Regions from separate parts of the Homo sapiens genome. Here all the other regions are linked to region 1. Evidence: fine-mapped expression QTL. A gene starts in region 1. Each other region holds a variant in brackets. All regions are shown on one strand. Distances are between the middles of the regions.

The links.
Region 2: its variant is fine-mapped to the expression of KLHL2 in whole blood (TOPMed, PIP 0.97).
Region 3: its variant is fine-mapped to the expression of KLHL2 in testis (GTEx, PIP 0.99).

The regions. Positions count from the first base shown.
Region 1 is chr4:165,206,223-165,208,986 of GRCh38, forward strand. It overlaps KLHL2 (kelch like family member 2), which reads left to right and starts at 1,339. Exons shown (of 15, transcript NM_007246.4): 1 at 1,339-1,680. The coding sequence starts at 1,655. RefSeq lists an enhancer at 960-1,460 and a silencer at 991-1,640.
Region 2 is chr4:165,276,550-165,279,313 of GRCh38, forward strand. The region is part of intron 5 of KLHL2 (kelch like family member 2); the gene reads left to right. It overlaps GK3 (glycerol kinase 3), which reads right to left. Exons shown (of 1, transcript NM_001395953.1): 1 at 1,258-2,764. The coding sequence ends at 1,435. Among named protein-coding and RNA genes, the nearest start is that of GK3, 1.8 kb to the right of the region's middle. The variant C/T (reference allele first, on the strand shown) is at 1,689.
Region 3 is chr4:165,175,313-165,178,076 of GRCh38, forward strand. No RefSeq gene overlaps it. Among named protein-coding and RNA genes, the nearest start is that of KLHL2, 31 kb to the right of the region's middle. The variant G/C (reference allele first, on the strand shown) is at 1,566.

The DNA of each region.
Region 1 (2,764 bases):
AGACGGGGTTTCTCCATGTTGGTCAGGCGGATCTCGAACTCCCGACCTCAGGTGATCGGCCCGCCTCGGCCTCCCAAAGTGCTGGGATTACAGGCGTGAGCCACGGCGCCCGACCTCTGTCCTTCTTTTTGTGGGATATTTTCAAACAAATCCCAGAAAAGTCATCCTTTTAATGATCAGATCAAGCTACTCACCACTTTCTAATTGCTTCTAATCTCAGTAAAAGCCAAGTCCTTTATCACGGCCTGCAAGGCCTGGGTGATCTGTGATTACTCCTCGCCACACCCATTCCTGCCGCCGTCCTCCTGACCTCACTCTGCTTCATTAGAGGGTCTCCCACCCTCGCGGCCCCAGCAAGCATCATCTGGAAAGCTTGTTAAAGCACACGCTGCTGGGCCCCACCCCCAGAGTTTCTGGTTCAGTAGGGCTAAAGTGGGACTGGAAAATTCGCATCTCTAACAAGTTCGCAGGTGCTACTGCTTCCAGCGGGCATACTTGGAGAACCACCAGCTGCACTGTTCTCCTTCCCGTTCCTCAACAAGGCAGGCAGGATCTTGCTTAGCAGTCTCCACGCTGCTCTTCCCTCTGCCCTAGGCATTCTTTGCATTACTCAAAGCCCCTGTTATTCCATCTCTTTAACTCATGCCTTTTGAGAGGCCTTCTCTGACCACTCTTTCTAAAATCTCTTTCCCTCTCCTCATCCTCATTTATGTTTCTTCATGGTAAGCATCACTTACTGTTTCCGTCACCCCGTCTAGATGGACAGCTCCACAAGCAGAAAGACTTGGTTTTGCTGTCACAGCCGCAGCACTAAAACCTTGCTTAGCAGGTGCTCACTTCACTTGTCCAAGGAATGGCTAGCATACTGAGGAGGGAGAGCCTGCTTCCTGCCTGGGACACTGGACAGGCAAATCACTTCTTCTTGCCTCAGTGCCACCCTTTGTAAGGACACTGGTTGGTTATGCCTACCCTTCCCATCTCCCTGGGTACAGGCACAAATGAAAAGAATAACGTGTACACGCCCGCGAAGCAGAGCAGCAAGTGGATACCGAGCATTATTACGCCGTGCGTTCGGCCGCCCTTTTTCTGCACGGAGAACCCCCTCCGCTCCCATTTTCCAGCGCCCCCGTCCCGGCGATCCAGAGACCCGCTGTGGGCGGCCGCCGCCCGCGTCCCGGCCTGCGGGCCAGCGTCTGGGCACGCCCGCCCCGCACCCGGCTGGCGCCCGCCCGCCCGCCTCCAGAAGCAGAAGCGGCAGCGGCAGCGGCAGCAGCAGCAGCAGGAGGAAGGGGAGGCGCCGAGGGAGGGGTACTCGGCCGCCGCGGGAGGCCGCATCGCAGTCCCGTCACAGCGTCGGCGCCGGCCGGGGCCGAACCCGGAAGTGGCCGAGCCCGCGCGCCCGCCGGTCCCGTCGCCGCCGCCCCGCACTCGGGCGAGCGCGGGAGCCGCGCAGTAGACGGAGCGCGCCCGGCCGAGCGGGCCATGGCCGCGGGGGCCGCCGCCGCAGGTGGTGGCGCGCGGTGAGGAGAGCGCGGCGCCCCCTCCGGGGCGGATGGAACGCGGCTCGGCGGGCGGGCAGTGCCGGCGTCCGCGGCTGGAATGGTGCTGGCTGTGTTGGTCGGTGCCTGCGTTCTGAAGCCCGAGAGGAGCCACAATGGAGACGCCGCCGCTGCCTCCCGCGTGAGTGAGCGGGCGGGCGGGCTGCGCCGCTGCGGATAAGCGCGCCGCTGCGGCGCGTGTCGCCGGCCGCGGGCGCAGCTCTGGGGACAGCCGCCGGGGCCGGCGGGAGGTGGGAGATGCGGGGCGTGACGAGGCGCTGTGCCCGCAGTCCTGAGCGGACGCGGACGGAAACTCAGCCTGGCCAGGCGGTGACTTAAAACGCTGCCCAGGATTTCTGGGGAAGGGTCTTCCCCATCTCGGGCGGATAGAAGATTCGGGGTGGGGCTGTGCATGGGTGACCCTGCAGGTCCTGTGTGTACCTCCCTGAAATGCATGGGCACCTGGTGCCGAGTTTGCCTACCCCTTTATAAGAGATCAGGCTAGGATGCACTGAGTCCGTTGAAAAAAGGAAACTGGAAAGTACCAGTCACCCGCTGTCTAAATGAATTGATCTTAGGTTGCTTGATTCCCCGAATTTCTAACAAAATTAATATCTGAGGAGCTTTTGCATCACTCTAAATGAGCGGCGGCCGTTCAGGGCATGTGACCTCTTTTACCTGGCACTGCAGAACGTTTTATCCAGAAATCAGCATCTTCTGTTTCGTTCGTACCTCGGGCAAATTAGTAGCGTATCGACCTGCCAGGCACAGGTGTCTTTTTTCTTTGGTACCCAAGTACATTCAAGATCACTGGCAACAGAATTACTTTCTAGAAATAATAGCTGAAACATTATGTAGAAGACATTATTGCATTATTCAGAACAAGGGTTTTTTTTTTAAATTTTAGTTTTTAGTTTTAAAAACATCTTGGTAAAAGTGAACTGTAAATACCCAGGAGTTTCGAAAATTTCAATTTTGGTTCCCTCTTCTCTTAGGAAGGAACAAGAGTCCTTTGAATCTGACTTTTCAAATCGCAGACAAACCTCATCCTGAAGAATGGTTTACCTTTTCATGAGAGCTTATTCATGGAGGCTTGTCGTTCTCCGGTCAAATTTGGCAAGCTTCACTCCATGCCGATTGTACCGCACCAGTCTCTTGTGGTTATTTGGCAGAATTCCAGCCAAAATAAGGATACTTGGCTTGGGTTGAATAATTTTTTGATGTTC
Region 2 (2,764 bases), 70 kb after region 1:
TTAAGATATTTTTAAAGATTGACGTTAAGAAGCTAGATTAGGTGACTTCTTATAATATGTGACATTAAATATTTTGAGAAATTCTTGGTTTCCTTGGAAGGCATTTATAATGATAAACCTTTTTTCAGTTATAATAAGATACTAAGCAGAGATAATTTTGTCATCCCAGATAGCAATTTCTTATTCACAATTGATAACATTTGAACTGAAAGAGATTCCTGGCTTTATTTCTATATTTTTTTCTACTTAGGTATTTAACTTTTTTGACATCCTCTTATCCCCTCAATAGGATCCAAAATATGTCTAAAATTAATTCAAAAGAAAACTATTTGAATTATTGCTTGTGTTTGAAAACAGTATTTACTGTAGTATTCCACAGTTTCTTCTTTTTTTAGGCTAAGACAATTAAATAAAAATGTAAGGGATAAGAAATATAGTTGAAGTCACAATAAAGTATATTTTCTTTTATGGACATAAAACATAAATTTTAAATGTTGGCTGTTTAAGAAAAAAATTCTGGTAGATATTATGCATAACCATTGCCCAAAAATGTATACAGCTGTTTTCCAACATATTGATATACATAGTGGTTCACTTAAGACCAGCCCTGTTAGAACCTTCTGAATATAATGTGCTCTTAATTTATAAATGGGCTACCCTCAGTGTATAAAATATATAGGCATATATGTTATACATACAAAGTAAAAAATATAAAAAGGAAAGATGGAAGAAAAAAGAAAGTATCCTTTCCTATAAGATCTAGACAGAAAGTCATTATAATTAATGGGACCATGGAAAATATTGGAAGGATTTCAGTTTTGGCAAATACTTTTCAGAAAAATATCCAAGCTATGAGAACACTAAATGTCTATTTTAATAATTTAGTAGATATTTCTATTCAAACATTCAGTAAAGGTGTTTCCGTCTTCTACTATGTAGAAAAGAAGACTTTTGGGGTATCTGTTAAAAGCGAAGAGCTGCTCATTTTTAACAGGTTAGTAATAACCTTTTAATCAAGTATATGTCATGCAAAGACTCAAGTCCTGTTCCAGTAGTGTTTGAGTATGTTTGATGGAAGATTCCAATGGTGAGGATCTGAATTCTTCGTACATCTTAGAGGGAATGGAGCAGGATGTTATGGCAATGGAGGGGGTCAGCCCCAAAGGTAGCTGGCCCAACCTTAACTGTGGATGTTAAAAACACACACACACACACACACACACACACACACACACACCAAATATTTCTATAGCATTCTTTTTGCTGCATTTTCTTTATTTTAAGCCACAGGTCTACTTGGAGGGTCACGCAGCAAGTGGCTTATAAATAAAATCAAAGTCTATGAATAGTGTCATCGCATTAAGAGACAATTGCTGGGTTGTTCTTTCATTATGTAAAAAGCTCGCATCTTGGGAATCCATGAGTTGGTAGGTTTTATGGAATACCTGAGATGTACCTTGCTCCGATTAACATTGCCATGCTACTCACTATAAAAAAGCCCAAGGGCAGACTACAGAAGACACTAGGGTCACCACCTTCTGGAGATTGAGTTGTAACCCAACCCATTGACTTCATCACAGCTTTCTTCCATGTAGAATAACGAATTTCACTTTCCTCAGCATTAATCTGAGGTTCAAACCGCTCCATCGTGACGGCGGACAAATCCTCAGGTTCAAGACTCCATACGT[C/T]GACTCCTTCTGCAGCCCCTGCCGCCATGGCAGCACCCAGTGCAGTGGTTTCGGGCATCAAGGGCTTCACTACTGGAATATACAGAATGTCTGCTTGTAGCTGCATAAGAATTTTGTTGCTGGTCATTCCTCCATCAACCTGCAAATGACTGAGTGGAATTCCACAGTCTCGATTCATGGCATCCAAAATCTCTCGAGTTTGGAAACAAACAGCTTCTAATGCAGCAAAAGCAATATGGCATTTATTCGTGAATTGAGTGAGTCCACAGATTATCCCTCTTGCGCTGGGCTCCCAATAAGGTGCATATAACCCCGAAAATGCTGGGACGAAGTAGCAGCCATAAGAAGTACCTACTTCTTTAGCAAGTTTTTCAATTTCTTCTGAGGTCTTTATAATTCCAAGATTGTCTCTTAGCCAGCGAATAACAGCACCAGCTATAGCTACAGAACCTTCCAAAGCGTAATATACCGGTTTGTCTCTGCCAAGTTTGTAAGCCACTGTGGTGAGAAGGCCATGATCAGAAAATACACACTTATGGCCTGTATTACATAGTAAGAAACATCCTGTTCCATACGTATTTTTGGCTTGTCCAATCTGGAAGCACATTTGTCCCACCAGTGCAGCAGACTGGTCCCCTAAACACCCAGATATTGGCACACCTTCCAAGGCCCCCGCTTTCATTAGGCCATAGATCTCAGAAGAACTCCGAACATGTGGAAGAATTTCCATTGGAATTCCAAAAAATTCACAGAGTTGTTTATCCCATTCCAAAGAATGAATGTTGAAAAGCATAGTCCTACTTGCATTTGTTACATCTGTACAGTGGACACCTCCATTGACGCCTCCTGTCAAACTCCAAATAAGCCATGAATCAATAGTCCCAAAAAGAGCTCGTTTTTCTTCAACGGCCTTTTGAACTTTTCTCACATTGTCGAGGAGCCAGCGAAGTTTCACTGCACTGAAGTAAGTGCTAAGTGGAAGGCCTGTCTTGGACTTGACAAAGTTATTATTTCCTGGAATTCTTTTACTAAGACTCTCAACGGTAGACTGTGTTCTTAGATCAAGCCACACCACA
Region 3 (2,764 bases), 31 kb before region 1:
TCCCAATAGTGTTTGGGGAAAAGGTCATATTTGGTTACATGGATAAGTTCTTTAGTGGAGATTTCTGCGATTTTCGTCCCATCACCTGAGCAGTGTACACTGTACCAACTGATCATTAATTTTTAAATACACTGTTGGATTTAGATAGCTAACATTTTAGTTAGGTTTATAAGCAAAATAGGCCTATAATTTTTAAATCCTTGAATCTTCCTTACCTCATTTTGAAATCAAGAACTAATTTAGTCTCACAAAATCAGCCATTCATCTTTCTCTCTTTGTGCCAGCCAATTGCCTGTTTGCTTTCAGCTCCATTTCTGTCCTTCTGTGTGCCCTGCCAGTACCTGGTTCACAGTAGAGACTTCATAAATATTTGTTATGGGCTGGGTGCAGTGGCTCACGCCTGTAATCCCAGCAGTTTGGGAGGCCGAGGTGGGAGGATCACCTGAGGTCAGGAGTTTGAGACCAGCCCTGGCCAACATGGCAAAGCCCTGTGTCTACTAAAAATACAAAAATTAGCTGGATGTGATGGTGTGCCTGTAGTCTCAGCTACTCGGAAGGCTGAGGCAGTACAATTGCTTGAACCAAAAGGCGGAGGTTGCAGTCAGCTGATATTGTGCCATTGCACTCCAGCCAGGGTGACAAGAGTGAAACTCCGTCTCGAAAATAAATAAATAAATAAAATAAAATTTGTTACGGTGGGGAATGCCATCAAATCAAAAGCGGGTCAAGCTCGAGTTGGTTTGGGCAGCTGGCCAGCATTTCACTGACCTCATTCTTCTCGGCCTTGTTGCCTGTTCATCCATCATCTGTCATCTTGCCTCCAGATCACCAGCAAGAAAGGAAACTAACAGTTTCTGTGTATTGCCTTTTTGTTTTCTTGACTGTATCTTTTAAACATCAGAAGTTTTTAATTATGATGAACTCCAGTTTATTAATTTGTTTCTGTTTTGGTTTGCACCTTCTAAGTATTCTAAGAAATCTTTGCCTAACCTAAGATCATAAATATTTTTTTCTACATTTTCTTCCGGAAGTTTTAGCTTTTACATTAATTCAAGTTAATATTTGTTTATGGTGTATATGGTCTTTTTTCATATAGAGATTCAATTATGCCAATGCTGTTTGTTAAAAAGACCATGTTTTCTCAACTAAATGGCCTTGGCATTTTTGTTGATAATCAATTGACCGTATACATGTGGATGTATTTCTTTACTTTTTATTCTGTTCTATTCATCTATCTCTATATGTCTCTCCCCATTTCAATATCACATTCTCTTGATTACTGTAATATTAATAGTAAGTCTTGAAAGCAGGTAGGGTAAACCCTCTCACTTTCTCCTTCAAACCTAAGCTTTTGTAAGTAAAAGTTGATTATTAGGTAATTTGGGAAATAAGCACCCTTCTCTATATATGAGCCTCAAACCATCTCTGTTCTTTTCCCTACTACTGAGCTTCACTGAGTTCAATGAAGTTAGAAACGGATGAGGGGAGGGATGGTGAAGCTCCCATCCCTGTTAGTTGGCAGACCCAACCCAAAGCACAACCCCAATCTTCCCAGCCAGTACCCT[G/C]CGTATGTCCATGTGACCCATTTCTGATTAATAAGACATGATATTTCAGCTGTCACATCTGTCACACAAATATTTCCCTTATGAGAAAATCTTGGCAAGAAAGGGATCATAAGTCAGTATAAATTCATCCCTACTATAGGAAAGAATCTTAAAATTTACGTCTATTAATAGTAAATAAATAGTGACATCTTCATCCTTGAGGACATATTTTATAAAATTTTCCCCCTCTGTGATTCTTGTTCTTATAAGAAATGCTACCTTTTGTGTGATTGATTACCAGGAATTCTATGGTAATGAATTATAGACTTCAAGGGTATTGGATAAGGATATGTCTAGCCCTACATAAGTATCATTTTACTACTACTACCAGTAATATAGCCTGAAAGTAATGACAATATAGTTCTGGATTGTTTTTTAAAAAAAACAAGCATTCTTCATGTGATGATTGTTTCTCAAAGCAGTCCTGTAAGGCAGATACTGAGCTATCACAACAGTTAGATCATAAAGCCCCTTAAAATGATATTTCAAAAATTAAATCCAAGTTTCTCAAAGACATATGGCTGCATACACAGTGATTGCAGGTGAGGGCAAACACAGAGGTAGAATTTTTCCTGTGTAAGAATTAAAATCAGTGCTACTGTGCCCTACAGTATTATAATTTCCAAATTAGTCAGTGTTCATTAACACACCCTACTGAATTGGGAATTCAGTATTAAACACAGACTTGATTATGTTTTTCTAAAAGATCCCTAGACCAGACTCTGACTGATTGCCTGAAACAACATGATCTTTTAGACAACAACAACAAAAAGATAACTTGGGTTTTGACTGGTGACTTGCATGAGTTGGTGTGGTTTTTTAGGATTGCAGTGAGGAATAACTGTCTCAGGATGGTTTTGGAGTCTGACAACAGGAACTGCAGTCTTTTTTTAAATTATTATTATACTTTAAGTTTTAGGGTACATTGCAGCCTTCTTAAGAAGGGTGTGAAGCCTGGACAACACTTCCGTGGGTGAGAACACCTTTCCCTGACAAACAGGTCACTGTTCTCTTACACGGCTTCTTTTGCCTTTTGCATATCCTTCCTACCTATCCACCTCCCAACCCACTGCCAGCAGTTTTGTCATTACCTTTGTAGTCAGAAAGACACACAGAATCCACTGGACTTGTGCAAATGTATTTTAAGTTTATGTCTTCCA